Linked DNA regions of Homo sapiens: all the other regions are linked to region 1. The links come from fine-mapping of genetic effects on gene expression. A gene starts in region 1. Each other region holds a variant in brackets. All regions are shown on one strand. Distances are from middle to middle.

Region 1 (8,106 bases):
TGCTCTGCTCACCTATACATACTCTGACCCAACCAAATATTGTGGAGAATTATGAATACAGTCCTTCCTCTGAAATCAGGCTTACTACTATGTCACTAAAGTAGCTTAATGAATAGATCAGATGCTAACTGTCTCTTTTTCCCTTCATCAGTTAAGGCTCCCTGCAAACCCAGTTATACACATCACTTCATTCACCTTTTCTTCAAATCTGAATGTTTCCTTAACCACCCAAGCTAGATTTCATCACATCCCACTAGCCCGGCTGCTTGTCATAACAACGGTTTACTGCAACTCCACCCTTTTCCCACCTTCAGCTTCAACAGTGCATTTGGTTTTTTTCCTTGTATCAGAGAAAAAATTAGGATTAGGAGTTCAAATCCACAAAGTAGTTCAGTGAACTGTCACATTAATATTATTTAACCACAGAGAATTTTCTGTTTAATTGCCACTCTCTCCCTTCACCCAAAGGACTACATCTTATTTTGATGCTGTAATGGAAAGCACTGCATTAAGACAGAGAGAGCAAAAACATAATGGGTTTAAATTTTTAAACATCTAACCTTTTCATGAGTCATTGTTAATCATTTGCACCTGTAACTTTCATAATCAGCCTAGCAATTAGAGAAGCAAAATCTGCAGAACAAAACTATGTAAGGATGCCCCAAGCACAACAACTACCATGTTAGGGAGGGAAGAAAAAAAGCTATTTGTGTCATACGTGACATGAAAAAAGTTTTACATGCTAGTTCCACTAAATCTTGAGAACATTAGCACTCCCATCTTCAAAAAAAGTCAAGATTTTTTAAAATCTGTAGTTTGAATATTAAGTGCTTGCCTTCTGTAACAATTTTTCAACTTTAGGTCTCAGAAAAAAAAAAGGCTCTGGAATATAAGCACATCATTAGGAAGGGAAAAAAAAGCTGATCTTTGAAATCATTCTCTGCACTGAGAAATTAGGAGCATGGACATGACATCACTTCATTTATTTCATTGTGAAAGACAAACTTAGAGCAAAAGTGGCAATATTCTGAGAATGTAATGGTAGTTGTTCTACATCAATGAAACACACAAGTTTGGAAGGTATAAATATGGTCTCTGTCAGTTGTAGTCCATCCTCAGCAAGTCATTTTCCCTGTGGGCTGAGGCTCCCATATGACGAAAATCTTCCTTAACTGCTGAAGGCTGAAAAGGATTCCCTGTGAACAGCATCTGGCCCATACCTTGTTTGCTCACATAAAAGCTGACAAGGGCTGGAGGAAAATGTGTCTGGTCCAAAGATGAGAGGATAGGGCCAAGAATCACAATATAACCCCTTTCCATTTAATCGGGAGGGCCCCTAAAACGGCCATTCATCCAAATGAGCTCTCCTGTCAGTCAGTCTTGGGCCATCCGCTAGCAGATGTTGGTCATTGTGTGGGCTGGCTGGTAGGATTTTGTGATCCAGCAGCTGCCAGCCTTTAATAACCTCAATGATGCTGTGGAAGCATCCATTTAGTGTATAAATATGCTTTGGGCATTAAAACACTGCCAAGTGAAATATTAGAGAACAAACTCCCCACCCACTGCAGAAATTTCCCAGGTCCAAAGCATCTGAGATGAAGATTCCAAATTACCAGTAGTAAAATTTCTTTTAGATCTTTTTTAATCCTCTTGCTTACTGAGAAACCCACTGAGGAGCCTCCCAAAGATGATGCCCACACTTCAGGTTATTGGTCCTACCGTGCACCTGGTTAGGGAAGGAAGAAGTGTTTCATAGTTACCCAGGCTCCTTCCACTTGTAGCAGGAAAGAACAGCAAGAAAGCATCAGAACACTCAACTCCTTGGAGATTTAAAAGCCAGAATTCCGGAGGGATACAGCGAAAAGACATCTCTCCCTCCTCACCTACACTCCCCACACTGTTTCTGCCCTGGCCCTAGAATCAGCAGCCCTTCAGTAATTCCATGCGGCTCCAGAGAGAATCCTCTATTCCACGGGGCTCCCGGATCCGACCCCAGGTCAACCGCTTCCCACCTTCCCAGCCTCCACACGCAACCCCTCCCCGCCGCCCCTGGCCACCCCCTTACCTGATAATGTCGTCGTTGTGTCCCAGGAAGAATTTTTGGCTGTGCTCGCGGGTGTTGTAAACCACCCCGACCCCAGCCACAAAGTAGACCACCTCCTTGCCTGCCGTGTAGTACAGGTTGTTGCGGCACTGGTGACCCCGGTACCCGTACACCCACTCCAGCCGGAGCTGGCAGCGGGGCGCCGTCCGATCCGCCATGATAAGCCGACCCCGCGCGCCCCCCGCCCCCCCGCGCGCCGGGGCCGTCCTCGCCGAGGCTGGGGCTGCGGCGGACCTGCAGGGGCTCAGCGCGCGGCGCAGGGCGCTGATTTCCGCGGCGACACACAGGCACAGCCCAGCGGGCCGGCCGCCACCATCATCCGCTGCAGCCGCCGCAGACAAGCCGCCGCCGCCGGTGTGCGGCCGCCAGACCCCGCCGGGCGCCGGGCTCCCTCTACCCGGGCAAGGCGGCTCTGGGGGCGCCGGCACCGGCGCGCGCGCCTCACTGCACCTGCGGGCTCCGGCCCCCGGGAGAGGCTCTCGGGGGGGCCACCCCGCCTTTTACATCAGGAATCTGCATATCCCAACAGCGATCACCCAGTTCGCTCACTGAAGTTTGCGGTGCGCCGGGGCTTCGCGGCAGGCGGCGGGATTTATTCTGCGATAGCCTTGATTTGACAGGCAACCCGGGTGAGCTCTGCCATCGCCGTCTTTGGATCCGAAATTGACAGTCTATATCCAGGAAGCGAGAGCGAGGAAGAAAGAAACAGATTTTTCGCATAAGTCACCCAATCCAAGAAAATTATCCCCAAACTAAACCAAGTTGGGTATTTTTAAAAATTGTCCCCTACTCCCGCTTTCTCTCTCCAGTTCCATCTCCTTAATGATATGAAATATGCGTAAATGCTGCTGCCTGGCAGTTGCTGATGCGATTTGAAGGAACGCTTGCTGTTTCCCTAATAAGCGAGGGCGAATATGCAATGGTCATTTTTTAGATGCTCCAATTAGTTTTCATGTGTGTGTTTAATAATCATATCCTCCGTGAACCTTCTCTTCACCGAGAAAGCCATAAAGAACTTAGCAGCTCTCATTGATCAGCAACTCCAATCCGCATCATGAAAGATTGTCTTACTCGGAAGAAACGAGGCACTAGTGCAGTCGGAGGGAGTGCGCTACCTACAAACGCTCCTGGTCGAGGAGAAATCAAATAACAAGTGGCAAAAATCGTGTACTTCTCCCCAGAAACCTCTGCGCTAAACACCGGGTCCCACGGAATCCCGGGTCCTGCCCTGAGCCCAGCGTGGAGAGGGGTCGCCCGAGGGACCCGGGGGACAGCAACCCCCCACAGACGCACACGTCCCGGGGGTCGGCGCGCTGCGCGAGGGATGCCCGCCCTCAGGACTGTTCGGCCCGCGCGCACTGCCGCCCTGGCGGCGCCCTGCACTCCTCCCACTCTCGAACCAGCCTCGCCCGCGGAGCATCCGCGCGCTCTCTGCCTCTAACCTCTGCTGCCAGCGGACGCCACCGGCGCGTCCCGGATCCCGCGCGGGCGAGCGAGCGAAATCCTCTGCCTGCCCTCCCCTCCCCGCCTCCCGCACCCGGGGATGGACTTCGTCACTGGGGCGCCGCGGGAGACAGGTTCTTCCTCCAGCCGGGGCTCCGGGGGCGGGGCCACAACGCCGCGCTAGTGAACCTCAGCTGCCGGTTACTAGGCGAGATCTCGCCGCTTGGAAACAGCGACGCCCCGGAGGACTGGGGCCGCCCCCTCCCTCTGCCTGTCCCTGTGGCCTCTTCCCCCGACGCATCCTGGGAAGTGTAGTCCTCTCTGCGCCGGTTAGGGCGGACAGCGCGCGGAAGGGACCACAAGTCCCAGGATTCCGCGCGCCCAGAGGGAGTCGCAGCGAGACCTGTACCGGCGTCAGCGGAGCCTGCGGCTCTCGGGGTGAGGAGATCCCGGCTCACCAAGGACGATTGCCTGCCCACGCGGGCGTTCCCTTGTGACTGAGGCGGGAGCTGGCGTGCGTGGGTCTCTGTAGAGAAAAGCGGTGGAGTTGGAATGGAGACGGTCTCCCAGCCCACCACTGGAATTTCTCCTTCATCGGTCTCTGAGTGTTGCTGTAACCGACATCCTCACCATGCTGTAACTGACTCAAGCTTAAGTTTGTTTCCTACTTAAGTTTTCCTTTTCATTCACATGGATTTTAATTTGTTAAAGTGCAGTTCTGCCAAGTTTAAGAAAAATGCTGGGAATGTGAGCTCACTTCTGCCCTAAGAACCAGCGTCTTCCCATGACCTGCGTCCTAAATTAGAGGACTTGGGTATTTACAGATAACCGGAGGTTGGAAGCAGGAAGGTGCTCACGCCATGAACAGCTAACCTTGGCCTTCAAACGCAGAAGCTGGTGGCATTTCTCCTAAAACTGCCCGAGATGAACTATGAATCCACTGTGTTCTCAAGTAGCCTATTTCCAATTTAGGGCCATAGCTAGTCTTTGGAAAGAGATTTCAAAATCCCAGTGACTAAGAGGCTGCAAAAGGATGATGGATTGGACGTTTGGAACGTCCTTTCCCTCCCATGCTTTCAGTGTAATCGCTTACTCAGTTCATCTCCCTCAAGTTTTAAGACAACCCTCCGACCTGGTAGGAAAGCTCGAAAGAACTGGAAGTGCCAGAGTTTGGATGATTTGTTGCTGCCCGCAGTAATGAGGATTTGAATTGGTCTCATCTTTGTTTTTAAGGAAACAGAATCAACAAATAAGTGAGATGGCACTGTGCTAGGCAACAAGAACACTGCCAAAAACAAAAACACGGCCTGAGAAAGGTTTGAGATAGAAGCAAAAATATAGTTGATCAATGATGTCGTGCCATAAAACAGTGCCAAATGAATTATATAAAGACAGTAAGTTTTTGTTGTTCTTTTTGTTTTGTTTTGTTTTGAGACAAAACAGGCCGTTGCCCAGGCTAGAATATCGTGATCTTGGCTCACTGCAACCTCCGCCTCCTGGGTTCAAACGATTATCCTGCCTCAGCCTCCTGTGTAGCTGGGATTACAGATACGCACCACCACGCCCAGCTAATTTTTGTATTTTTAGTAGAGACAGGGTTTCGCCCTGTTGGCCAGGCTGGTCTCCAACTCCCGACCTCAGGTGTTCTGCCCGCCTCGGCTTCCCAAATTGCTGGGATTACAGGCATGAGCCACTGTGCCTGGCCAGTAAGTTCTATATAAGAATTCAGAAGAGGAAGAGTTTTTCCAGATAAAATACATCAGGAAAAGTTTCATGGAGGAACTAGGAAATATAGATAGAATTGAGATAAGTAAAGATAAATTGAAAGAGCGTTCTACATGCGTTTAGGGAATAAACAAAAGTGTAGATGCAGAAAAGTGGATTTAGAGAACACTAAAGAGAATACCCAGTTTGGTGCAAGGGAGAATTCATATAAGATCAAGAGGACACATGAAAGGTTAGATTGTAGATGGAGCTCAGCATAGGGGTTTGCGCTGTATCCTTAAAATAATGGAGTCATTGATTTTTTGAATAAAAATAAGGGAATAGCAATGAAAGCAGTAATCAAAGCATGAGGTATTAGAAGTCTGGGGTAGTGCTTGAGGCTGCGTTAGAGATAGTGGCAGTGGTCTAGAAAGGAAGAGACACTTTCCAGAGAAAATGTACAAATGTATTGAAAAGAAGTCTCTTAAATAGAAATGGATGGAACATATTCATTTCCTAAATTATCTTTAGTATAACTAATGACCCCCATGCTGTACCAGACTGTTAAATGAGTTGGAGGAGTAAGTCTGAGTCAGCCACTTACAATTGTAACCTTAGGCAAATCACTAAATCCTCTGATCTTTACTCTCCTCATTTAATAAAGTATAGCAGTACTCACCCCACAGGATAATTGTAAGAATGAAACAAAGTAATACATACGTGAAAAGTTAATTTGTAAAGCATTAGATAAATGTTAATTATTACTATATGGCAGTAGATAGTAACCTCTACTTGAAAGTGTCAAATAAGACTGGTAGTGTCCTTTGGAAATAAGCAGTATTAAAAAGCATGAGTAAAACTCATAATATAATAACATTATGTTGTTGTAATGAATAGCAGTTACTATGTTCCAGGCACTATAAATGGTGCTTTACGTGTATCAGATAATTTGATCTTCACCCCAGTAATAATCCTATGAAGTAGTTACTGTTATTTCCTCATTTTACAGATGAAGAAATGAAGGTAAGGAAAGTTTAAGTAACTTGCCCAGGAATGCACAAAATAGTGACAAAGCCTGGATTTGAACTCAGGCAGTCTGACTCCAGACGCTGCTCTTAAATGCTAAGAATGATGAAAGAAATTGTTTAGATGGTAGAGTAAGTTCACCTGTAAATGAAACCCAAAATAGCCATGATTTAAACTTGATAGAATTTTATTTCTCACAAAAACCTGGAGGTAGTACAGGCCTAGAATGATGGCTCTGCTTAAAGGAATCCTTGAGTACTCAGGCTACTGGCAGCATGCCAGCATTCTGCTCTGCTGTCCCTAGACCTCATGGTCCAAGATGTAGTACTAGCCATCAAACGTACATTTCAAGTACATTTCAAAGAAGAGAAGGGTCATGGGGCACATCCTGGCTGCCTTTAAAAGGAAGATGCTCAAAAGCTACCCTAGGCCAGGCACAGTGCCTCACACCTGTAATCCCAACACTTTGGGAGGCCAAGGCGGGAGGACTGCTTGAGCCCAGGAGTACTAGACCAGGCTGGGCTTTGGTGACACTCCTTCTCTACAAAAACTACAAAAATAGCTGGGTGTAGTGGCACAGGCCTGTAGTCCCAGCTACTCAGGAGGCTGAGGTGGAAGGAATTGCTTAAGCCCAGGAGATTGAGGCTGCAGTGAGCTGTTACCACGCCATTAGACTATAGCCTGGGCAACAGAGTGAGATCTCAAAATAAAAAAGAAAAAGCTACCCCAAGTCTTTTCTGTTTATATGCTATTGGTCTGAACTTAGTTATGTAGGCATACCTAGCTGCAAGGAGATTTAGGAACTAGTTTTTATTCTGGGCAACCATGTACCTAACTAAAAATAGAGGATTCTTAAACTGTGGGAAAAAAATAAATGGCACTTTACATCCCTTATCTCTCTAAATCCTTACAACAACCCTATGAGTAGATAACTTCATTTTAATGTGAGGAAACTGAGACCCAGAAAATAAGTAATTTAACCAAGATTATTCAATAAGTGGCAGAACCAGAATCAAATTTAGGTCTGTCCAACTACAGAACCAGTGTTATTAACCACTACTCCCATACCTCCCAACCCAAGACATAGATCCATTTATTATTAAACGATGAGAAAGTAATACTTGAGTAAAGCAAAGTCTCAGAATTTACTTCCTGAAGTTTCCTAAATAATAAGAGGGAAAAAGATTCAACAAACAGTAGTAAGGACAGAAGATAAGTTGAAAAACTCATGAAAATTCTCACAAAAAATGCTCCAATTTGGAAAAGTAAAATGTAAGTATACATTTTTAGAGGCTGAGGTGAAGAAGGGGCATACGTTAGAGAAGATCCTACATATTACTTTAGGTCTTCAGCAAAAATAGTTTCACCAGGACCTGCCATCATCAGGGAGATGGTTGAATGATGGTTGTACTATGCAGAGTCAAAGGAATAATCCAACATTCATAGGTGTGAGATATATCTTTGGCTGCATGGGATACGTCCTGGAACTGGTCATTTCATAGTACCTTAAGCAAGAGCAAAACCTTGTCTCTTAGTGGAGGCTGTACTTAGTCCCAGTAGATTTCACCCATTTTCCTGCTCTACTCTTTTCCAATATTAGGCTACAGAAAAGTGGGGAGGGGGGGAAACAGTAGTCAGCCACCATATTTTAGCTCTGAGAAGATCAGTTCATTCCTAGATAAAGTGGGAAGGATGTAAACAATAACTTATATAAAATATATCAGAATAGATACATGATCTAGAAATAGCTGCCCCTATCCAAACTGAGCAAGATGAAAAGAAAGGGCGTAGCAAACACAAACTAAAATCCTGAAAGAAAGGTATATAAC
Region 2 (8,106 bases), 240 kb before region 1:
GTGGTGGCGGAGCATTACCACCTGAACTCCGCCTCCTGTCAGATCTGCCGCAGCATTAGAGTCTCATAGGAGTGCGAACCCTATTGTGAACTAAGCATGCGAGGGATCTAGGTTGCAAGCTCCTTATGAGGTGGAACAGTTTCATCCCGAAACCCCACCCCCTACCTGGTCTCTGGAAAAATTGTATTCCATGAAATTGGTCCCTGGTGCTGTTTTATGTAATTCAGTACAGCCATGTGGCTCTCCTGGCATGAAAGCATCTGTCCCCTTCCCCTCTGTACATTTGTGCCAGCTCTTACTGTTCCCCCTCTGCCTCAGTTCCCTACACTCCAAAAACACAAGTTACCCCCATCTTTGATTCTCTCCCTGTTCCCTGTGGTCCTCTTGAATATGTGTGTGTTGGGGAGAACAGCAGGGGTTCCTTTCAACTCACAGACTAAATGGTCTCTTTTCCCATGAATTAGCCATTGTTTCTCATCCTGCTAAGCCGGGGTCTGGCCCTCCCACTCCCTTCCCCTAGCGAATGGAGGCCTCACTGTGCACTAGGATTGGCCAAGAGACGGGAGATGGTTTCCTGTTGAACTTGCTGGAAGGGGTTGGAGACTTGTAGAAGAAATTACACAAAAAGAGGGGCTTCGCATTTCAAAAACCTAGGTCAGATCAAAGCCAGTGACCTAAACTAGACTAGCCAAGAAGCCTCCCACCCTCACCCCCAAAAGAAAAGACAGCTCCATTTCTCAGCTTCTTCAGATCCTGCACAGACTTGGAGGCTGAGCCTGAGTGAGACAAGAGACTCCCTTGTGACCTTTTCCTCAAGTTTTTTCTTCCAGTCAGTCACCTTGTCCAGGAGGCCCAGGTGATCTTCTCAATGACCACGGCTTCAGTTACCTGCTTCCCCAGGGGGACCTCATGCACCTGGCGCTTATAGGCACCTGTTGACACCTGTAGGTAGAAGGGAAGCCATGTTCATCAACGTTCTTTCTCAGTCCCACAGACTCCCTTTGGGCACAGTTTCCCAGAACACTGCCCAGCCTCTGCATCCCTAGGGCTTTTCTCCAAACCCAAGCTCAGCTCCAGGCTGCAAAGCCTATGGCCAGCCCATGACAACAACAGCAGGCCATTTTCCCATCTTTCTTCTCATCCATTTTCTCGCTATTTTCCAGAGTCCTAAGATAGCGGTTCTCTGAGTGTGGTTCCCGACCAGCAACGTCAGCTGCATCTAGAAATGTGTTAGAAATGCAAATTTTTGGGCCCCACCCCAAACCTACCCAGACAGACACCGAAAGGGTGGGGCCCAGCAGTCTCTGCTGTAACAAAGCCGCCAGGTGTTTCTGATACACAGGAATCCCAGTTCACAGGAAACCAAGAACCTTTGGTACAGAGGTAAGGCAGGTTTCTCATGGACAGTGGGTGACACAGATGATCTCTGAGGTGTCTAGAACCTGAACCTCGGTGCTCTGGGAGTCTTCTAAAGGAAACAGACCATTTTTCCTACCATCAAGACATTTGCAGTGAATGGCTGCTGCCCTTCCTGTTCAGCTTCCTCTCTCCCTGCAGTGCTTCTCCTGGAATGAGCTGGGAAGCTGAGCTCTTTCCTGCCTCAGGGCTTTCATGCAGATGGCCTGGAACAATGTTCCCACCTCTCTGTTGGCTAACACCTACACACCCTGCAGACCTCAGCTTAAATATCACTTGCTGAGAGGAAGTGCATCTAAATTCAGCACCTTGTTACATGCTCCCCGGAATGCTGTACTTTTCCTTCTTGGCACATAATCACAATTTGTAATTATATTTATATTTTGTGATTGTCTGTTTAGTGCTTGTCTTCTCTGTTATAGAGCAAGCTCCAGGAAGCAGGGACTGAAACTGCCTTTGCAAAATTATGATTGAGACAGTGAAAGAGATCTAACTTAACTGGCTCCATCTTGTTTCTAACCTCCATGCTGTCCTTGTTCATTCCTGGATGTAGGCTGAACTAACTTTGGGAGAAAGTTTATAGTTTATGGTTTAAACAAAGATGGTAGCAGCCCTTTCCCAAAGCAGACCTCCTTCTTGCCTGGGGACCAGATTGCCTTTGTAGGATTAACATTAGCCAAAAGATTAGAAATTATGGTTTAGGAGTCATGTAGCTGGAGGCTACAAGATTCTGACCCTCAAACTGCTCCTAAATTCAGCGCTTGAGATATTTTGCAGACCGTGCACTTGATGGATCAGCTGGCCCCACCCAGATCAATACACTGGCTCATCTGATCTTGTGGCCCCCACCCAGGAAGTGACTTAGTGCAGGAAGACAGCTTCAACTCCCTATGATTTCATCTCTGACCAATTAGCACTCCTGGTTCACTGGCTTCCCCCCACCCACCAAATTATCCTTAACAACTCTGCTTCCGGAATGCTCAGGGAGACCAATTTGAGTAATAATAAAACTCCGGTCTCCCGCACAGCCAGCTCTGCGTGAATTACTCTTTCTCTATTGCAATTCCCCTGTCTTGAGAAATGGGCTCTGTCTAGGCAGCCGGCAAGGTGAACCCCTTGGGTGGTTACGGGACCAGTCTCATTTTGTCCATCTAAAAGTCTAGCATAGTGCCCGGTTCAGCAAATAGTTGAATGAATAAATACATCCTCTCTCCTTTTACAGTGAATATCCAGCTCCAGGCCAGCTCACAAACGCAGATTTCTTGAGTGCTAGAGAAATCATTCTGTTTTTAGGGATCAGTCCCAGCAGTGGAACCCTCTCCCTCCCTTCCACCGGTCAGTTCCCCTGGGACCCAGGGATGAGCTTTCACTCCAGGCCCACTGGCTGGAGTCCAGGGCCCACGTATGGAGGGGCCATTCTACCCAGTAGAGTTGGGAAAGACATGAATAAATACCAGAAGCGGCACAAGGCTTAGGTGTAGCCCCAGAAAACTAGAAATCAGGAAACTCTGAAGAGGAGGTGGTGAGGGGCAGATTAAAGATGATTAGGGCTTGTGTTTCCTGTTTTTCTTACTCTTTATTATTTTAAATTCTATTTCCTCCACGTTCTTAAATTCTCTAAGCCTCTGTTTCTACATTTATAAAATATGGAAAAAGTAACTACTTAAGGAGTTCTGGTGAAGAGTGAGTTAGCACATTGCCTGGTACACAGTAAGGACTCGATTAATATAGGCCATTGTTATTACTGCTGTTATTATTGGTTGCCCCAGATATAAGTAAACCCCAAGCATACCTGAATGTATTTGCCATCCGCAGAAAAATCCATCTGAATGACAAAGCTTGGGATATCTTTGCAGTAGCCAATGCGGTTCAGATTTGTGCCCTGAGTGAGGTCATAGAAGTCAACTGTGTGTTCAGAAGAACCAACGGCTAAGAATCGGTTGTCTGGGCTGATTCTAGAAAAAGCAATCCGAGAGCAGAGTCCATGAGGAGGGCTGTTTGGGGCTGGTCAGGCACGAAGGCTGGTCTGTGACAGGCCTTCCAGGCCTAAAGGCAATGAGAGCCACCTTGTGACTCACATGTGGTCAGCCTCTCCTGGCATTCTACGGAATTCAACAATTTATCTGGATCGAATCCCCGGGAAATATGTAGAATGACATTTACAAGTAATTTTAACCACACTTTTATGGAAATTAGCAAAGACTTGTCTAAGAGTGAGAGTGGGAGAAGGTATTCTTTCATAGGTGGCTTGTTGAAAGTGACCCTCTCACAACTGAGTTCTTTATTCCAGCCGTGGCTGGAATGGGAACCACTGGTAAGCAGAATGCTTGCCTTTCTCCTCCATGCCCAGACCACCCACTTAGGTACCTGATATCTTGGATAGCAGATTTCCGGTCTCGTTTTTTCCCCCAAACTTTCAGGCTGTTCACCAACAAGATGACAAACTCTCCATTCTTCATGCCAATGGCCACCATCTCCCCATCAGGGCTGTAGGCTGCACACCTGGCCGCATGGCCCAAGCTCACCTTGTTTAACAGCTTCTACATTGATGCAAAGGAAAGTCACCTGAGCTCTTGGCCCCCTCAGCTGGTCTCCAGGAGACATTCTGCACCAGGCCAGAGAAGTCAGGCTGCCCTCGCAGCCACTGCAGGCCACCAAATCTCTTGCTTCTTAGAGTAAATGTCCCTGAATAACTGAGCAGAGCTGTATGTCTTGATTAGAGCAGCTTGGGGGACAACAAGTTTTAGGGCACAGGCTGCCCAGCTTTTTCTGTAAATGATTAGGTAGCACCCACTTTAGACTCTGTGGGCCATAGTCTCTGTCGCAACTACTCACCTTTGCCACTGTAGCACAAGACAGCCTCAGTACCTGAATAAATGAGGGCAGCTGGACTTGTAGAAACAGGCCACAGGCCCGATCTGGCCTTTAACTGTAGATTGCCAACCTCTTCTTTAGGGGAAAGAGTGTGAGCTTCTGCCTCTGCTAGTTCAAATTCTGAATCCTGGCCCTGTCACTTACTAGCTGGGTGTGTTTGGGTAAATTACATCTCAGTTTTTAGAGTTTTACTAATAGCGATGTTAATAAGGGTTTTGCAAGGTTATTGTAGGCACTGATCATGTCCATGAAGCAGCTGGTGTTATGTAGTTAGTCAAGTAGTGACAGCTGTTGCTAATAATGTTTAATAAATAATTACAGAAACTAACTTAAAAGTCTAGCAACCATACTCAAGCTTTTACCTGACTATTCTGTGACTCTGACACTAAAAATACAACAAACACTTACCAGCCATTTTAAAATGAAACCAAGTATTTTAATTAGTTGAACTTGAGTACTTGTTTTAACACTGGATAAGGCCATGAGGATCGGCAAGAACTCTTTGTTCCCTCCCACCCACCC[C/G]GCTCCGCCCAGCCACTCCTTGCTATTTCACAGTTTTACTCCAGATGAACTTTAACATTGCCTTCCCAAGCTCTAAGAGAAACCTTGTTGGGATTTTGACAGAAATACATTAGGCCCATTTCAGAACATTTCACATTTTAAATCATTTTTAGTCTTCTCATCCAGGGAAAACATGATTTGTCTCTATATTTTTAGTTTTGTGGGTTCTTTCATGACAACAGAATAATCCTTCTCAATTATATTGTTTAGACGGGGTGTGGTGAGTGGGGCTTCTTTTATCGTTAGGTTTTCTAACTCGATCTCCTACCTGGCCCCATCCCCGTCTCTGCCATGACGCTGGCTGGGCCTCTCCTCGCTCAGCTCCCACTGCCGCGCAGCCCACTCGTGGGCATCTGAGTTTGGGCAGAGTCGGCCTCACCTTGTCAGCCAGGTCCCAGATCCGGGCTGTGCCATCGTTGCTGGCAGAGATGAAGAGGTCCTTGGAAGGGTGAGTGGCCAGGCCCCAGATCTCCCCTTCCATGTGACCATCAATCAGGATGTTAGAAGCAGCATTTTTTTCACCAACTTCAATTATTTCTCCGTCTTTGGTTCCCACTAAGATTTTTCCCTGTTGTAATTGAAACACTATTAGAAAAAGGACAAATACTGTATGACTGCACTCATATGAGGTATCTAGAGTAGACAAATTCATGGAGACAGAAAGTAGAATGATGACTGCCGGTGAATGGGGGTGGTGGACAGGGGAGTCAGTGTTCAGTGGGTACAGTTACAGTTTTGCAAGAAAAGTTCTGTGGATGGTGGTGATGGCTGCACAACATGTGAATGCACCTAATGCCACTGAATTGTATATTTACAAATGGTCAAAATGGTCAATTTTATGTCTATTTGGCCACAGTTAAAAAAATTTAAAACACCACTATTATTAGAAAAACTTGGGGATTGCTTGAGCCCAGGAATTTGAGGTTGCAGTGAGCTATGATGATGGTACCACTGCACTCCAGCCTGGGTGACACAGTGAGACCCTGTCTTTAAAAAAAAAAAAAAAACAAGTAACTTGAGAAAATGCCTTTGCAGTGTTAATATTAAAATAAGAAGGGGTGAGAAGTGTTGTTTTTGTTTGTTTTTTGAGGCAGGGTCTCACTCTGTCACCCAGGCTGGAGTGCAGTGGTGACATCTTGGCTCACTGCAACCTCTGCCTCCTGGGTTCAAGCGATTCTCCTGCCTCAGCCTCCCCAGTAGCTAGGACTACAGGTGCCCGCCACCACATCTGGCTAATTTTTGTATTTTTAGTAGAGATGGGGTTTTACCATATTGGCCAGGTGGTCTCGAACTCCTGACCTCAAGTGATGTGCCTGCCTCTTGGCCTCCCAGAGTGCTGGGATTACAGGTGTGAGCCACCATGCCTGGCCAGTGTTTTGTTTTTAACAACAAACTGTCCATTCTTAATTGCTCTTCTCCACCCTCTTACTTTGCCCTTTCTCCATCAGCTACCTCAGGTGAGAGCTTCAGCACAGACTCCTCCATCACCCAGCCTCTGCCAGAATATTCCAGTGACTGCAGAGCAAAGCAGCCAATTCTCCTGTTCTTGGACAGCTCAAGCTCTTAGTAAGTTCTTCCTTCCACTGAACAAAAATCTGCTTCCTGGCCAGGTGTGATGGCTCACGCCTGTAATCCCAGCACTTTGGGAGGCCGTGGTGGGTGGATCACCTGAGGTCAGGAGTTTTGAGAACAGCCTGGCCAACATGGGAAAACCCCATCTCTACTAAAAATACAAAAAATTAGCTGGGCATGGTGGTGGGCACCTGTAATCCCAGCTACTTGGGAGGCTGAGGCAGGAGAATCGCTCGAACCCAAGAGGTATAGGTTGCAGTGAGTTGAGATCATGCCACAGTACTCCCCCTGGGCAACAGAGCAAGACTCCGTCTCAAAAAAAAAAAAAAAAAAACTACTTCCTGATAACTTCCAGGCTCCAGGCATAGTCCTGCCTTCATCTCCCATAACTACCCTTCCAGGTGGGCATCACTTAGCTATTTAAGAACAAAATCCCCAGTTTTGAATCATGTGGTACTCCATATCCAGTTTGCCTTTTTCATGGACAGCATCTAGAAAGCAAATTCTTAGACTGATATTTAAAAACAAACACAAGGTATTCAATAGAAGTTTGGAGATTGGCTTTTAAGTGCATCAAATCTCCTGGGGGAATTTAAATAGAAGGAAATAGAAGGAAACATACAGGTCCAGGTCCCACTCCTGAGATTCTGATTCACCAGCTCCAGGTGGGTGCCCGGACATCCATATTCTTTAAAACCCGACAGTTGTTTTTGATACGCTACCCAAATATGAGTTGGAAACCAATGGCTTTGAGTCAGACAGTTTGGTGGCCCTTACCCTCCTCCTTACTGGCCCTATAGCTTAGGGCATGGGCAAACTATTTAGTATCTCTGAGCTTATGAGGATATCATCTATAATACTAGTAGCTAACATCTCCTGAATGGGACTATATGCCAGGTAAGATGAAAGGCACTGTCATGTATAAATATGTGACCCTCACAAAAACCTCATGACAAACCTGTGTGCTGGACACAAAAACATTAAGGAACACACCCAAGGTCACCCAGCTGGTTCTTCCTGGGGGAGTCTGACTCTCTTAAGCTGCTTCCCACTACAGCACAATTCATGTATTGAGGCCTTGTTTCAAGGAGTAAACAAACCAGCCCAGAGAAAGTGCCGGCTGGGAGGGTACCTACACTTCCCCCTTCCCTGGCCCAGCCCCCAGGGGAGCTGGCTGTGCTCACTTTTCCACGGCACACGGAGCGCACACACTCCACCAGCTGCCCGGTCTCCAGCTGAAAGGCCCGGCAGCGCTTCATCTCCTGGTCCCACAATTTTACAGCACCTCCTTCTTTGGTCCTAAAAAAGATTGAAAGGGACTCAGGCTGTTAACCCTCATCCTAAGACCCACTACCCCCTCCGGCCCTCTCCCCTCTTTCCCAGTCATCAGGGTTCTGGCCAGTTGGGGCCCAGAAGGAAAGACCCTCCAGGGTCCAGACCCTCCAGGCAGCCTCTCTCTTAGGCCCTGGTGCTAAGCAATCCCAACCTCCTGAGCTTGCAGATTTCCTAAAATGCCTTCAAATGCTACTATCTTGGGAGGAAAGAAAACGTAATTTGGAAATTCAGACTTTTTATTAGATTAGAACACAGAAATGTTTCTCCTGTCTTCAGGCTTTGCTTCTGCATCTCCCCTCTTCTCCTCCTTCCTCCATTCCTCCACAGAGCTACTAAGAATAACGTTTT
Region 3 (8,106 bases), 34 kb before region 1:
TTAAATAGACTTATATTTTAAACTTAAAGCATAGGTACCTCAACTATTTTTGACCATTTTAAACATTTCCATATCATAATTCAGACAAATTAAAGTCAAGCTATATCCACAGAGTTTATGATTTATGTTAGTGAAAGAATCACTTTTGACCAAATTGCAATGTGATTCATAAATGTCCACTTTTATGCCTTTGTGATTTTTTAAATGATCAACCAAATTTGATAATTTAATTACATTCACATATTATATACCTCAGATAAAACTAGTAAGCTGCTCTGAAAAGGGGAAATACCTTATTCAACTTTCTTACCAGAAATTATAAACACTGAAGGACTAAGCTTTGTTTAATCCCTGGTATTTCCCCAATTAATAAAAATAAGCACCTTCATTTATGCTTTTTTTTCAGTTAAGCATTAATAAAAAAGAAACAAAGCGTATTGTTTATTATCATATTTTTTGGTTCACAAAACTGCAAAATTCAAGTTTATAACATTAAACAAGTCCGTTCCACAAACTGGGAGTACTATGACTTTGGTAGTCTGTTTAAAATCATATTCTCAGATGAAATAACCATATGGAAAACAATTTCTCAACAATGATGAGAGTTATTATCATTTGGCTGCACTACCACTAAGAATAAAGTGGAATTAAAACCATAAAGCAGAGAAGCTGAAATCTAGTTTCTCAAATGCCTTGGGATTAACTTCACTAGCATAAACCTCAAAGATACTGATTACCAAACTCAGTACTTCCCAGATTAATAAAAACATTATTGGTCACCATTCATCATACTAAGCCTCATGCTTCTAGATTCAGGAGGTTTGTATTTCCCAGACACAGAGTAACTTCCATCTTTCAGTCTGTCCCAGATTCTTTTTCTAGTAAAAAAAAAAAAAAAAAAAAAAATGCTCCCTCAACTTCAAAGCAATGGGGAGAGAGAATGGATCTCATGTACACCTCCCATCTTTGAAATCTTCCGAATTCCAGGACAAAAGCAGTGATTCTCTGTCAAGGTTTGTTTGTATAAGGGAAAGATAGAAACTTACTTCTTCATATAAGAAAGAAAACCCAGATAAAATTACATTTGGCAAAACAAATTGAATTTGATAGTGTCATATACCGGCCAGATGGTAGGGAAACAGGTACTCTGCAAGCCTGCTGCCTCTAGGTACTGCAATTCTAGGCTATATTGAAACTGAAAATGGGCATACCTGTGACTAACCAAGTCCACCTCTAGATATCTCCCTAGAGGGCCACTCTCCCATGTGTGCAAGGATTCACTGAAACACTGTTTGAAAAGCAAAAGAACCTAGAAGTCTGTCAATAGGGGAATTTATGTAAAGAAATCAAGCACATGCATAAAGCAATACTCTGTTATGTTCTTGGGTAGTACGTGAATATAAAGATCTGAAAAATATATACCAAACTCATAGCAGTAGTGAATATCTGGGGAGCATGGAGGGAGACCAGGACAGGAAATGAAAGCTTCATTTGGAATGTTCTAAAATTAAAAAAAAAAAAAGAAAACTTATTCATGTATTACTTAAGTAGTTAAAAATTAATTTTCAATGATTAAAAATATGGATCGAGTCAAACACTAAATAAATCTAAGACCAAGATCAATTTGACTACAAAATAGTGGAAACTGAGAAAAACTGGAAGTTAGGCTATTTAAATTACTAACATTCTTAATGCATCAGAGTAATGGCCCAGAATCGGAGCCGGAGTCTTGATCCTGCTGTGTATAATGATCCTGCTGATATCTAGAGCAAGTTATCTTATTTCTCACCTACACTTAATCATTAAAATATATATAAATATATATTATATGTAAACAAAGATTTTATATATATATATATGGAGGGAAGGAAGTTTCCTCAACTATTAATTACATCTAATTTTGTCCAACCTCGAACTTCACTCTTGGATCACCTTAGCACAGCCTAACATTGGGATATAGTTAAAATGTCTCCATTTTGAGCAGATTCTGCATGCTCTCTCCTGAGCATTCACATGCTAGCTTGGTGATGAAGATGTGTTGGTATAAATCCAACTTTTCTTTAGATTTAAATGAGTTGGTACATGTAAAGTTTTTAGAGTTTTTAAAGTTTTTCTCTCTCCCCCAGATTTGGCATCCATTGCTAATTTATGTCTGAATTTATGACTTTTAAAAACTCTATAAAACCTTTAAAAGCTCCTTAAATGAATAAAGTTACTATGCGTTTAGTCAGCATTCAATAAATATTAGCAAATAATATTATTGCTATTTCCAAAATAAGTGACTCATTTTAGCACTTCCCCCATGATCTTATAATAGTTACCACCACTATTCTTTCTAGTATTACCATAAAATACTCCAGAAAACCAAGGTTACTCATTCAATTAGCTATAAAAAAAATTCTTTGGACAGTATTCCTAAACTCAAGTTTTGAAGATAGCTACATGAAATACCAGTCAAAGCCACTGTAAACTGTGGGCCTAATTATCAGATATGCATATTATTATTCATCTAGTATGAACTTGTCATTTCCTACTACCTGAAAAGAAGACATGCTAGACACAACAGACTGTTACACAGCTGTTTCATAATCACACATTTCACAAATGGAAAATGGAATTGAAAACATCCACCTAATGGAGGCTGCTTCACTGGGTCTAAGAGGGAGCCACACAAGAATACTGGGTCGTGTGCTGAGTGCCAAGCACTCCATCCCTATTTTTTGTTTTCAAGTGTGTGATCCATTATGTACTATATGTGGAAGTGATGAAAACAGGAAGAAAATCTATAGCTCAAAAAGGCAACTTATGAACCACCCATATTTTATGTTTGCAGAGCACCCCTGCATTACCCTACATTGCTCTATGAAGGAGTGTCACCTGGAATGTAGCAAAACTGGGATTAAAAAAACAATGCTCTCAGACCAATCTGTAACCCATCCCTGCAAAGCCTCTTAAAACAAGATATAGCATCATATTCTTTTATAAAATATTTACTGACACCTGGTTTGGGCCAGGTACTTTGGTAGGCACTAGATATTTAACAGTGAACAAGATAACATGATCCTGTCTTCCAGAATCAGTCACAAGGAAGAGAGAGACAAACAAATGGATGATATACTACAGGGTAATAAGTACTACGTTGGAGGAAGTATAATATACTAGGGGACAATACAGGGAATGGGGGACTGGGAAAACCGTCCCAGAGAAAATCACTTCTAAACAGAGATCTGAGAGATTAGTAAGAGACAGTGAAGCAAAGATGAGAAAATAGAACATTTCTGAAACCACACGTATAGAGGTCCAGAAATAAGAGAAACTATAAGAGCACATTCTGGGCCATCAGAAGCAAGGCAAAACCTACTCTGTAGGGATGTCTCCACAACCAGGACATACAGGACTCCCACCAGAAATAGTATTACACTGGACAAAGAAAACAAGTCACTGTAAGGAAGACTCAGGAGACACAGCAAGCAAGACAATTAGCATCCCTTCTTTCCACCCACTCCCCTCTCCCTTCAGGACTTGAAAACAATAGAACAGCTGGAAAGATTTTAAATCTATTTAAAATCAATAAAAAGATGAAGGTGTAGATATCACATGGTAAGAATAATGCATACGAGAACAGAAGAAAAGTGAAAGTCAAATAAAACTCATAGAAATGAAAATTACGGTGACTGGCATTCAAAATCCAATGCAAGACTTTCAGTTTTAAAGCATTTATCTATGCTTCTTGCCAAATTGAAAAGATAGGGAGTTATTTTAAAAGACACAGGCCCACAAAGACAAAGAGAACAAGAAGAAAGGATAAAGTATGCAAAAGAAACCTTGAAGAAAAAAAAAAAAAAAGGAGCTGGAAAGCAAATGAGTAAGTGGTGACTGATTTTAGAACCCTAAGAAATCTAAGCCTACCAGGGCGAGGGTGGGAGGAAGAAGGGGGAAGTCAGAAAGAAGCAGCCAGCTCACAGCCGGAAACCTGGAAAGGCTCAGGGCCTTGCAGATACATATCCTGAAGGCTGGAGTGGAGGGAGGGGGTGAAAGTAGGAGGACTAGTTGAGAGCTTGTGTAAAGAACAGTGAGTCCACCAGAATCCTCCTCTCACCCAGCAGAACTCTGGAGATTTACTCTCTGGGGCTGCCCAGCTGAGGAAAGCTCATACAGGAAGTTAAGTGAGTCGGCGGCCTTGTGAACCATAAAACCTCTCTCCATTTTACTCCTG[GA/A]ACACTTGCCACCAGGTATACTGCATACCCCACGGTCACCCCCAGGCAAGAGATTGGAGGTTCCTTTCTGGGGAAACTGACCAACACAAGAGAAAATGCCCCTCCATCCTGACATTGTATTACAGCATCCTCCATTGCAAAGGCGGTGCACCACCTTAACACCCTATGGTGAAACCACTCATCAACACTGCCCCTCATATAGAGCTCCCAATTTGCTTTCAGGGGTCTTGCTCTTAAATACAAAGAGAGCCAAAGCCTGCCCAACATCTGATGAAAGCCTTGAACCTAAAAGTTAAAGACCAATACAAATATACAGGAGAAAAAGGGAATGCTGAGGTGACAGAGAAAAGGAAGGAGACATAAGGGAGGGACATAATTAATATACTCAGAAAAAAGAAAAAATATGGCAATATATTGAAACAAGAAGGTATAAAAAAGAAAAATTCAGTAAATTTTTAAAAAGCATTTTAAAATATAAAATATAAAAATAAAAATTCAACCGATTTGAATGACAAAATAGAAAAATCTACCAGAAAATAGAAAACAATAATAATAAGGAAAATAGGATTACAATTACAGATCCAGGAGGTCTCAAAACTACCAAAAAGCTTTGAAGAAGAAAGAGCAAAGAGAATGGAAAGGAAGGCAAGAAAACATTCCAGAACTGAGACTCAGGAGTTTGTAGGTTGAAAGGCCCAAAAAAGGCAAGATCAATGGATGGAAGACCCAAACAAAGCCACATTATTGTTAAATTTCAGTATGCCAGGAATAATGACCCAGAGTATCAGAGAAAACCACAACAAAAATAAATTAGAAATCCTACCTTTTAAGAAAATAACCCCAAATCAAAAAAAAGGCTTTTTGTAGAAAAAAATGCTCCTGAGAACATCATTTATAAAAAGGAAAATATAAACTTAAAAAAAGATTTTTTTAAAAAGGAAAATAAAAGAAACACCCTACTGCCCAAATACAAGAGAAATGGTTCAAGAAACTGCTGTGTATGACAATATAAAATCAGGACCAAAACCCAAACTTGTATAAACAGCATGCTCACAGACATAAAAACATAAGCACATTAAAGGAAACAGAATGAATATCCATTAAAATGTTAACATTTAGACATCCACTCTGTGTTGGACAAAGTGAATTTTATTCTACCAACCTTTCCATTGAGAACTTCTATAAAAGCTAGATAAAATTAAAGAGCACAGTCGATTGAAGACACTGATGAACAAACCAAAGCAGGAGGAATTTTAGGGGCAGGGATCCTGACAGAAGAGCAATGCCCTGAACATTAAAGTAAGCCCTAAATTTCACCCACTCTGCCTCCTTGGGGCATTTACCAATTTGCAGTGCAGAGCCCAGAGGGTAAGCAGAAACTGCCACCTATCGCTCACGGCATTCTCACTGAATGAGAGAAACAAAACTTAGAATTCAGGGCTTCCAAGGCAGCCTAAACTTAAGGAAGAGGGCCAAGATCCAAATTAAAAATGGTATGGCAGAGAGGAAAGTCCAACCCTCTGCATACAATTTCCCCTTAAGGTATTTGCCGATTCCTAACCAGTACATACAAGAAGGAAGAGCTTTCTTAGCCAAGCAGAAAACAGCGGTTAAGAGGTTAAAAACCTAAGCAGAACCACCCTGGGCAACATGATGAAACTCCGTCTCTACTAAAAATAGAAAAATTAGCCAGGCGTGGTTGCCTGCACCTGTAGTCCCAGCTACTCAGAGGCTGAGGTGGGAGGATCGCTTGAGCCTGGGAGGTGGAGGGTGCAGTGAGCTGAGATCACACCACTGCACTCCAGTCTGAGTAACAGAGCCAAACCCTGTCTCGAAAAAACTAAAAAATTATATTTCTATATACTAGCAAAAATAATTAGAAAATGAACATTGAAAGTATACCATCTGCAATAGCATCAAAACCCATCAAATACGTAGAGATGAACATCAAAAGATGGATAAGACTTCCTCCAGAAAATTATAAACCATTACTAAGAGAACAAAGTAGAGGGATATATCATTTTCATGGATTGGAAGACTCAATATTATAAAGATGTCAATTCTCTCCAAAGTGATTTATACAATCAATATAATCTCAATCAAAATATCAGCAGGTTTTTAATGGAAATTGACAGATCAATTCTAAAACTGATACAGAAATACAAAGGACGCAGAATACTCAAGACAACTCTGAAGAAGTACCACAAAGTCAGAGAGGTTATATTCTCAGAGTTCAAACTGCAGTAATTAAAACAGCGTGGCGTCAGTGCAAGGATGAAGACTAATGGATCAGAATGGAATCCAGAAACAGACTTATTAGGGCTGCCTGATTTATGACAAGGTTGCCACTAGTTCAATGGGTTAAAAAATGATCTTTTCAATAATAGATCTGGGTTAACTGTATATCTGTATTTAAAAAACAAATTGCTAATCATGACCATCTCATAAAATCATTTCCATTGGATCACAGACCTAAATTTTAAAGGTAAATCAATAAAGTTTCTGGAACTGTGGTATCCATTGTGGTAACCACTAGCTACATGTGACTAACTACATTTAATTTTGAATTAATTAAAATCTAATAAAATTTAAAATTTAGCTTTCACTAACCACATTTTAAGTGGCCAGTAGCCAAATGTGACTAGTGGGCTACCACTGGACAGTACAAACATAGAACATTTCTGCACTTCAGAAAGTTCTACTGGACAGTGCCGTTTTGAGAAGATTACATAGGAAAATCTTTACATAACCCTGAATTGGGGAAATATTTCATTAACAGGACCCAGACAGCACTAATCATAAAGTAAAAGATTGATAAAGATTGATAAATTGGACTTCACTAAATAAAGAATGTCTGATCATCAAAGAATACAAATGCAAGCCACAGAATGGGAGAAGATATTTGAAATATAGAATTGACAAAGTACTCATATCCAGTATATATAAATAACTCATATATATCAATAAGAAAAAGACAGGCAACCCAGTTATTTCAAATGGTCAAAAAGACCTGAAGAGGCACTTCACAAAAGAGGGTATCAAAATGGTCACTAAGCACATGAAAAGGTGCTTGTACTAGTTTCCTATTGCTGCCATAATAGGAAATTACCATGAACTTAGTGGCTTCAAACAACACAAATGTACTAACTTACAGTTCTGAAAGTCAGGTGTCCAAAATGTGTCTCAATGAACGAAAATCAAGATTTTCAAGGCTGACTAGTGGTCAGATTTTCAAGACAGGTGCAGTGGCTCCCACCTGTAATCGCAGCTAACTCAAGAGGCTGAGGCAGGAGGATTGCTTGAGGCCAGGAGTTTGAGGCCAGCTTGGGTAACGTAGCAAGATTCTGTCTCTAAAAAAAAAAAAAATTTTTTTTTTTGAGACGGAGTCTCGCTCTGTCTCCCAGACTGGAATGCAGTGGTGTGATCTCGACTCACTGCAACCTCCGCCTCCTGGGTTCAAGCAATTCTCCTGCCTCAGCCTCCCGAGTAACTGGGACTACAGGTGCAGGCTGCCACACCCGGCTAATTTTTCTATTTTTAGTAGAGACAGGGAGTCACCATGTTGGTCAGGCTGGTCTCGAACTCCTGACCTCGTGATCCACCCGCCTTGGTCTCCCAAAGTGCTGGGATTACAGGTGTGAGCCATCGCGCCCAGCCAAAAAAATTTTTTTAATTAGCCAGACATGGTGATGTGCACCTGTAGTCCCAACTACTCGGGAGGCTGAGGCCAGAGAATCACTTGAGCTTGAGGCCTGGAGTTCGAGGCTGCAGTGAGCTATGACTGTACCACTGCACTCCAGTTTGAGCCACAGAATCAGACCCAGTCTCTCAAAAAAAAAAAAAAAAAAACTCAGGACTGCATTCTTACTGGGGGCCCTAGGGAGACTGG
Region 4 (8,106 bases), 64 kb before region 1:
ACCCTACACGTCCTCCCTCACCTCTCTGAATTTCTCTTCACACCTATTATATTTTTTGTAATATTTATTCAGAAGAAATGCTGAATGGTGATAATGCAATAACTTAGGCCTGTGACTGTTTGCTTCAAAGTTTGAAAATTAAGTTACCGGCCGGGCGCGGTGGCTCACGCCTGTAATTCCAGCACTTTGGGAGGCCGAGGCGGGCGGATCACGAGGTCAGGAGATCGAGACCATCCTGGCTAACATGGTGAAACCCCGTCTCTACTAAAAATACAAAAAATTAGCTGGGCGCGGTGGCAGGCGCCTGTAGTCCCAGCTACTCGGGAGGCTGAGGCAGGAGAATGGTGTGAACCTGGGAGGCGGAGCTTGCAGTGAGCCAAGATCGCGCCACTGCACTCCAGCCTGGGCGACAGAGCGTAACTCCGTCTCAAAAAAAAAAAAAAAAAAAGGAAAATTAAGTTACCAATGTCCTCTATACACAATAGGGTCCTGATACTAATATGGATGTGAATGATCAACTGTGGGAAAGCCTGGTGATAAGTACGTCAAAAATATAACCAGTTTCTTGCTTCTAAGTCTATTAAAATGTAGGTCCTTGGCTTCCAAATGCTGGTATCTGAATGATACAAGAATGGACCCTCCAGCCGTGAAATGGGTGGTGACAATAGAGTATGGTGTTGTACACACAGATTAAGAGTGCAAATATTGTCAATGTTTATATTTCCCACTAGTTGTAAACTTACTCTGCAATTCAGAGTACAGCTCACAGAGTTAGGGTGCTTCCCCGCTCCACAATGAATCTGAAATTACCTAAGTATTTTCTGGGCACAATAAAAATTAACCTAGTTAACTCACTAATATGTCAATGAAAACAATATATACATATGTGGGAAGACAGTGGGAGAGAAAATAGAAAGTGGATGAATTGTCACCATACACACAGCAAGTTATCTAATTTGCTTTTCAATTGGCTCATTAGAAATAAGTGCCCACTATTCAATCTCTCTTATAAAAATCACTAGTCATTACTAAGTTTTCAGATATATGAACTGAAATTATGCAATGTCATCGGAAGACATTCTTTGAACAAATATTTACTTAATGCTGACTATTCTTAGATCTCCCTCTTGTACAGGTTACCTGTGCATTTTTCATCATTTAAAAATACAACACATATACGCATTGCAAAAATAAGATGAATCCCCACCACACACACATACCATGAAGCTCATTCTCATTTGGGTCCAAGAGCCAGAGAAGTCAATCAGTATTTGTAGATATTCTGTGTCATAAAGCTCTCCCTGTACTTACTATTTAGGTAGAAGCAAGCCCTGGTAAGGAAAGCAGCATGTGTGCTGGAGTTAACTCTGGATTCAAATTCCTTCTATTCTACCTATTAGGACCATGTCTGAGCCTTAGTTTGCTCATCTGCAAGATGAGAATATTAACTCCCTTCTGGATATCATGAGGATATAATTAAATAAGGTAGAGTTTGTAAAGCATCCAATACAGTATCTGGCACATGACAGAAGAAGAGAAGAAAACCAATACAAGTACGGAAGACAACATCAGGTGGGCCAGTTACGTCCCACCCATGTCTACTTTGGAAAGCACATTCTTTTTCTTTTTTTTTTTTTTTTTTTTTTTTTTTTTTTTTTTGAGACGAAGTCTCGCTCTGTGGCCCAGGCGGGAGTGCAGTGGCGTAATCTCGGCTCACTGCAAGCTCCGCCTCCCGGGTTCACGCCATTCTCCTGCCTCAGCCTCCCGAGTAGCTGGGACTACAGGCGCCCGCCATCACGCCCGGCTAATTTTTTTGTATTTTTAGTAGAGACGGGGTTTCACCGTGTTAGCCAGGATGGTCTCGATCTCCTGACCTCGTGATCCGCCCGCCTTGGCCTCCCAAAGTGCTGGGATTACAAGCGTGAGCCACCGCGCCCGGCCGGAAAGCACATTCTTTCTAAAGGTCACCATAACACTTGCTAAAAATTAAATGTTTCATTGTTTTTGCTGTTTTTGTTTGTTTACGCAAGTATCTTCCAGAAGCTATTTATTGGAATAAAACCAAAGTGCTGAAGGAATTAAGCAGAGACAGAACACATGAAAGAGAAAGGATAACAGATGATGGATATAAGAAAGAATAAAAAGCAAAAAGATAGCAAACCTGCCTCATTTTATTAAGAAATGTAAGCAAGTGGCAAAGGGGGTGGGGCGGATGGAGAAGGGAATAGAAAGCCAATGTTACTAACCATTGGATTCAGCGTTAAGTCTATGGAACTCCAACCAGTCAGAAATGACTTTCCATTTTTCATCTAGCCAATGGAAATGAAACATGTATTTTAAACAATAAAGTCAATAAAAACTTCAGGAGAAATAATGTTTTGATTCCTAAAATATATGTTCTGAAGAGTTTGGCCCTATTTTTCAAAAAGCCAATTAGTGTTCACCACCGTTTCACACCAAAACAACAGGAATTTCCAATAAAATGACTGATAAGCCATTCTATTAGACAAGTTAATATAACCAGCCAAATAACCAGTTATTTTGGCGAAATCTTGTTTGATCATTTTGCTAAGCTTCAATTTTCCTCTAACTTGGTCTTGAGGTCTCTCTCTGGAGAGTAGCTATCGATTCTAGACCTGCTGGGGCGGGGGGCGGCCCCAGATGTTTATAGTGTTTCTCACAGAATACCTCTTTTCCCAGCTGGACGCCTAATCCTAAGCGTGGACACATGACCAGATGCCCCTCTCACAGAAAACTCGGTTATAGTGGCAGCCACCCTTGTAGATCTTCTCTCACCTGGGTCCAGCCCTGACCAGGAAGGGAGTTAGGTTCAAGTGAGACACAGGAGCCGGCACAACAAAACACATGAAATAACAGAAGCCGGTGTTACTTACAGATGCCAGAGAGAAGAGGGCAGCCCGCCTTGCAGGCCAACAGGAAGCGGGAGCCATCTGGAACCTATGTGCTCAACCAGTAAGTGGGCAGCTAGCGAGCGAGTGAGCGAGAACCTGGCGACCTAAGCCTTTATTAAGGTCCACGGGTGTTCTGCCGTAGGCTTTCCACAGGGCAGTGGTTGGCTAGTTTAAAGAAAACACGTGCGAAGGGAGGGGGTCTAATTTACCTGACTCTGATGTTGACCATCAGGTTTCATCATGGTCAACAGCTGTGGGGTGTGCTGGGTTTTTGGGTCTGCGAGATGAGGAACAGGCAGGCTACAGCAGAAACCACCGCACAGGTGAGGGAAGTTTCAACTAGGCCTCGGGGGACGGGGTGTGTACAACCGGG[T/C]TTCAAATAACTTAGGTCTGGCCTAAAAATTGATGCAGAAGGAGCAATGATATTAAACAAATTTATGACAATGGACACTTGAACAAATTCCACCTAAACACACAGGCTACCTTAAACATGTGAAACAAACCTCCTATAAAATCTGATTTGAGATCTTAAGGAAGTACCCCAGACTGAGACATCTCCAGACACGACTCCCAAGTTCCCCATGAGCAAAATGCTCCACTTTATTGCTAAAGATTGCTTCAGTTCCATAAGCATTTATTAATCATTCAGTGACATTAGCTACTATTTATCGATCAATTACTATGCGGTACTTTACACATTATCTCATTTAATGCTCAAGAACAATCCAATAGGATAAACAAACTTATCTCTCTTTACAGACAAACATACTGCGGCTCACGGAGGTTAAGGAACTTGCCCAGGCCACACAGCTGGTAAGTGGCAGAGCCAAGATTCAGACCTAGGTCTGTATGACTACAATTCAATCTTTTCATAACTCAATCTTCCTCTGGTTTACTTTTAAAATATAAATACTTGAAATTCTCATTAAAAACTGACATCTGGGTTCACACAAAGACCCCCCCCCAACCCTCACCCATCTCATTGACAAGGCTCAGACCATGGGAGCCTTGTCAGGTATTTCTATGAAACGATATTGATGGGAAAATGAGAGCATTTGGTCACTTCGAGAACTACCAACCCCTGAACCAGCCCCCTACCCGCTTTCTCTCCCACCAACGCACACTGCACAACTCCCCGAAGCCCTGCTGAACCTACTTAGGCAGTGCCTGCCTGGCCTGGAGACCTCAGTGGGCACACCTGAGGCACTCATCTTTCAAAAAGAACCTAAGTCTTCTCATGTTCTAACCTCTCCCTGCCCCACTCTTCCCAGATCCATAATCAGAGGCAGATTTCAACTGCACTGGGAGTCAAACAAAGAGTCAAGCCCGAGAGAAAAAGGCTTACACACCAAAAGAATGGCACTATTTTGCAAACTTACAAACTTGTATATGTTTAACAAGTTTCACTTGTCCAGTATATATTTGGGGAACCTGTGTGGGAATGAATTCCGAGGAAAGGGGAGAACATTACTTTAACCTGGGCTTTAGAGACCAGCTGTCTTAACAGAGCCTCTGGATTCAACATGGAAACTCGAGCATCTGGGAATTATTCTAATTGTTTGCTCCATTTCTTTGTTGAAATCTGGACTCAATGGAGTCCTATAATATTTGCCAGAAACTCAGTATAATGGAGAGGAATGTGTGTTGTGGGTTCTACCTTGTGTAAACTGTCCACCTCCCTATACCGCTATGTCCCCTGAAAGGGTACAGGAGATTCTTCCTTCACCACAACCCACTGGTGGGGTAGGTAGCGGGTGCGGTAGCAGCACTTGAGCAGGGGAGGGGACCCCACTGTGGCTGAGCACTGTTCTCCGTTGTGTGGTCTTTGGCTCTCCTAGAGATCCTGTGAATGTCCCAATACCCTTCAATAAGTGACTTTCTGCTTATGTAAATACCTAGATTGTTTGCTGTCAAGAATTGTAACACCTCAGTCCAGGGTACTTTCTGCTACCCTAAGGTGTTTAAGATAAGAGTAGCAAAAAAGGGCTGGGACTAGAGACCTAGGGAATGACCCTCCTTGAAGACAGGGCAGAGAGAAAACTTCCAGGGAAAAGAGACACTCAGGGAATAAGCATAGGAGCCACAGGGCCCAGCCATCTCCTCCTCTACTGCCCCGGTGGGACTTCTCAAATTGATTACACCAGAAAAAACAGAAGGCTCCCTACAATGGGTGCTCTCAGCTAGCTCCTTTACCCCAACACCCTGGGTGGCCGCTCCACCTCTAGCTCCTTTACCCCAACACCCTGGGTAGCCACTCCACTTCCTCCTGGCCATAACCATGCCCTAAATTGCACACACACACACATACAAATATATATATATATATTTATATATACAGTTGATCCTTAGACGACACAAGCTTGAAATGTGCTGGTTCACTTATACTCAAATTTTCCCAGTAAATACACTAAAACATTTTTTTGGAGATTTGTGACAATTTGAAAAAACTCAAAAATGAACCGTGTAGCCTAGAAATACTGAAAAAAATTAAGAAAGAGATATGTCATGAATGCAAAAAGTATATGTAAACACTGGTCTATTTTATCATTTGCTACCATAAAATTTATACAAATGTATAATAAAACATTAAAACTTATGAAAACTTACACACAGACAGTACATGGAATCATTCACAGTCGAGATAAATGTAAACACATATAAAGATGCAGTATTAAATCATAACTGCATAAAATTAACTATAGTGCACACTGTACCTCTGTAGTACTTTGCTATTGTGGTGAACTTAAGTGTTGTGAGTATCCCTTAAAAGGCCATGGGGGCCAGGCACAGTGGCTCACACCTTTGGGTGGCTGAGGCAGTAACTCTGGGAGGCCGAGGTGGGAGGATCACTTGAGGTCCGGAGTTCAAGACCAGCCTGGCAACATGGTGAAACCCCGTCTCTACTAAAAATACAAAAATAAGCCAGGCGTGGTGGCTCACACCTGTAATCCCAGCTGCTCGAGAGGCTGAGGCACGAGAATCACTTGAACCTGGGTGGCAGACGTTGTGGTGAGCCGAGATTGCGCCACTGCACTCCAGTCTGGGCAACATAGTGAGACTCCGTCTTAAAAAAAAAAAAAAAAAAAAAAAGTGTGTGTGTGGGGGGGTGGAAATCTCTTGAAGTTCTCTCGTATTTTTCATCATGTTTAGTGCAATACTATAAACCTGAAATAACACTGTGGGACCCCCTGTGAAGTGCCACTAGTGATCTAGGCTGGAGGTGTTCCCAAAGAAGCACAGAAAAGTCATCATATTACAAGAAAATGGTGAATTGCTTGAGATTTGCCATAGACTGAGGTCTGCAGCTGCAGTTGCCTGCTATGTCAGACAGACAATTCATCCTGTAAACAGATGATGTACTCTTATGGTATTGACAAATACAATACAGTACTGTAAGGGTATTTTTCTCTTCCTTATGATTTTCTTAACAATTTGTTTTCTCTAGCTTCCTTTAAGAATAGCATGTGGGGCTTAATACCTCGATGATGGGTTGATAGGTGCACACATTTACCTATGTAACAAACCTGCACATGTATCCTGGAACTTAAAATAAATTTAAAAAAAAAGAATACAGTATATAATACATATAACATAGAAAATATGTGTTAATGGACTGTTTCTGTTATTGGTAAGGCTTCTTGTCAACAGCATGCTATTAGTAGTTAAGTTTTGGGGAGTCAGAAAGTTCTACTTGGATTTTCACCGCAAGGGGGTGGGGGTAGCATCCCTAAGTCCCATTTTATTTGAGGGTCAGATGTGTAACACCCAATATTGGCAAAGCAGGCTATACAAATTCATTATTAGTGGTACGGTAAAGTCTTATAACACTTTTGAAAATACATATGGTAACAAGTTGCAAAAGGTTTATTAGTATTTATACTCTTACCTGGTAATTCTACTCATAAATATTTATTCTAATATAGCAAAAAAGTGATAGGCACAATATAGTTAGTTGCTTGCTAATTGATTTAAAAATTTACAACTTCATAAAGATCTAACATTAAAGAACAGTTCAGGCCAGGTGCAGTGGCTCATGCCTATAATCCCAACACTTTGGGAGGCTGAGGTAGGAGGACCATTTGAGCCCAAGAGTTTGAGACCAGCCTGGGCAACATAGCAAGATCCCCATCTCTACAAAAAAAATAAATAATTAGGCATGAGTAGCACATGCCTGTAGTCCTAGCTACTTAGGAAGCTAAGGCAGGATATTCACTTGAGCCCTGGATTTCGAGGCTACCATGAACTATGATCACGACTGTACTCCAGCCTGGGCAATACCACAAGACCTTATCTCAAAAAAAAATTGAAACAGTTCAATAAATTATGGAACATGAACATAATAATACACTAATGTGCAGATATTTAAAATCTTGCAATGTGGATTTACCTATATTAACATGAGAGAAAATAGAATACAAAATAGCATGTACAGTCTCATTACAAGTATATCAATGATACATATTTATAGTATTATACAAAAAGAAAATACTGTAGTCAATTTTTAGGGTGGTGAAAGTAAGAATTATTTTAATCTCATTTTTAAAAATCTTGTCTTCTCAAAATCTTTTTAAAAAATCAAGCCTCAAAAACATTTCAGTGAATATAATCATCACAGTCGTTTCAAACTAGCCGCAATTCAGCATAAACTACAGCTAATTACACGGACAATTCTTTCCTTGCCACACCAGATATCCACATTTGACTAAATTTTTTAAATTAGATTGAGAAAAGGTATATGTCTCTATTTCACTTCCTTAAATCTAAAATCAACTACAGCTTTGTTCCAGATATGAAAAGAACTTTTAAAGGCTGTGTACAAACTGACCTAATGGTATTACAGAAAACAATTTGTGATGTTCTGAATGTTATTTGAAACACTAGCTAAAGGGAAAATTTTAAAGCATAAATTAAAAATCTAGACTTAAGCTTGATTTTTACTTGCAATATAACAGAGTGTTTCATTACATAGTTATATCCAGAACAATAAAAAAGAAATATGCATATACATCAATTGCCATGGAATATGAATAATTTCTTATTTTATGAGATAAGACATGAGGTCAGTAAATGACATTTCCCAGGCATTGTAATAAAGCATTTTCTATGTAGGATGTAATACAGTATGATGTAACTTTTATTAGTTATTATTTACTGATCGACTATAATATATGCACGCATACATACCTATATTAAC

Which allele goes with the higher level. Positions count from the first base shown, and alleles are read on the strand shown. Sizes are in standard deviations (SD) of each study's normalised expression. Not every link is listed here.
For the expression in esophagus mucosa of the gene that starts at base 3,662 in region 1, allele C in region 2 goes with a higher level than allele G (moderate effect, 0.49 SD a copy in GTEx).

Evidence for each region. PIP is the estimated chance that this variant, and not a neighbour inherited with it, causes the effect.
Region 2: its variant is fine-mapped to the expression of EML6 in esophagus mucosa (GTEx, PIP 0.94).
Region 3: its variant is fine-mapped to the expression of EML6 in whole blood (TOPMed, PIP 0.98).
Region 4: its variant is fine-mapped to the expression of EML6 in whole blood (TOPMed, PIP 0.91).

What each region holds. Positions count from the first base shown.
Region 1 is chr2:54,719,218-54,727,323 of GRCh38, reverse strand. It overlaps EML6 (EMAP like 6), which reads right to left and starts at 3,662. Exons shown (of 42, transcript NM_001039753.4): 1 at 3,547-3,662; 2 at 2,066-2,775. The coding sequence starts at 2,262. RefSeq lists silencers at 2,459-2,608, 3,280-3,769 and an enhancer at 3,910-4,129.
Region 2 is chr2:54,959,836-54,967,941 of GRCh38, reverse strand. EML6 (EMAP like 6) reads right to left here. Exons shown (of 42, transcript NM_001039753.4): 35 at 7,608-7,722; 36 at 5,231-5,419; 37 at 3,784-3,956; 38 at 3,209-3,371; 39 at 839-942. Among named protein-coding and RNA genes, the nearest start is that of RTN4, 87 kb to the left of the region's middle. RefSeq lists an enhancer at 1-449. The variant C/G (reference allele first, on the strand shown) is at 4,813.
Region 3 is chr2:54,753,623-54,761,728 of GRCh38, reverse strand. The region is part of intron 2 of EML6 (EMAP like 6); the gene reads right to left. Among named protein-coding and RNA genes, the nearest start is that of EML6-AS1, 6.6 kb to the right of the region's middle. RefSeq lists an enhancer at 5,948-6,017. The variant GA/A (reference allele first, on the strand shown) is at 4,217.
Region 4 is chr2:54,783,067-54,791,172 of GRCh38, reverse strand. All of the region lies in intron 2 of EML6 (EMAP like 6), which reads right to left. Among named protein-coding and RNA genes, the nearest start is that of EML6-AS1, 36 kb to the right of the region's middle. The variant T/C (reference allele first, on the strand shown) is at 3,286.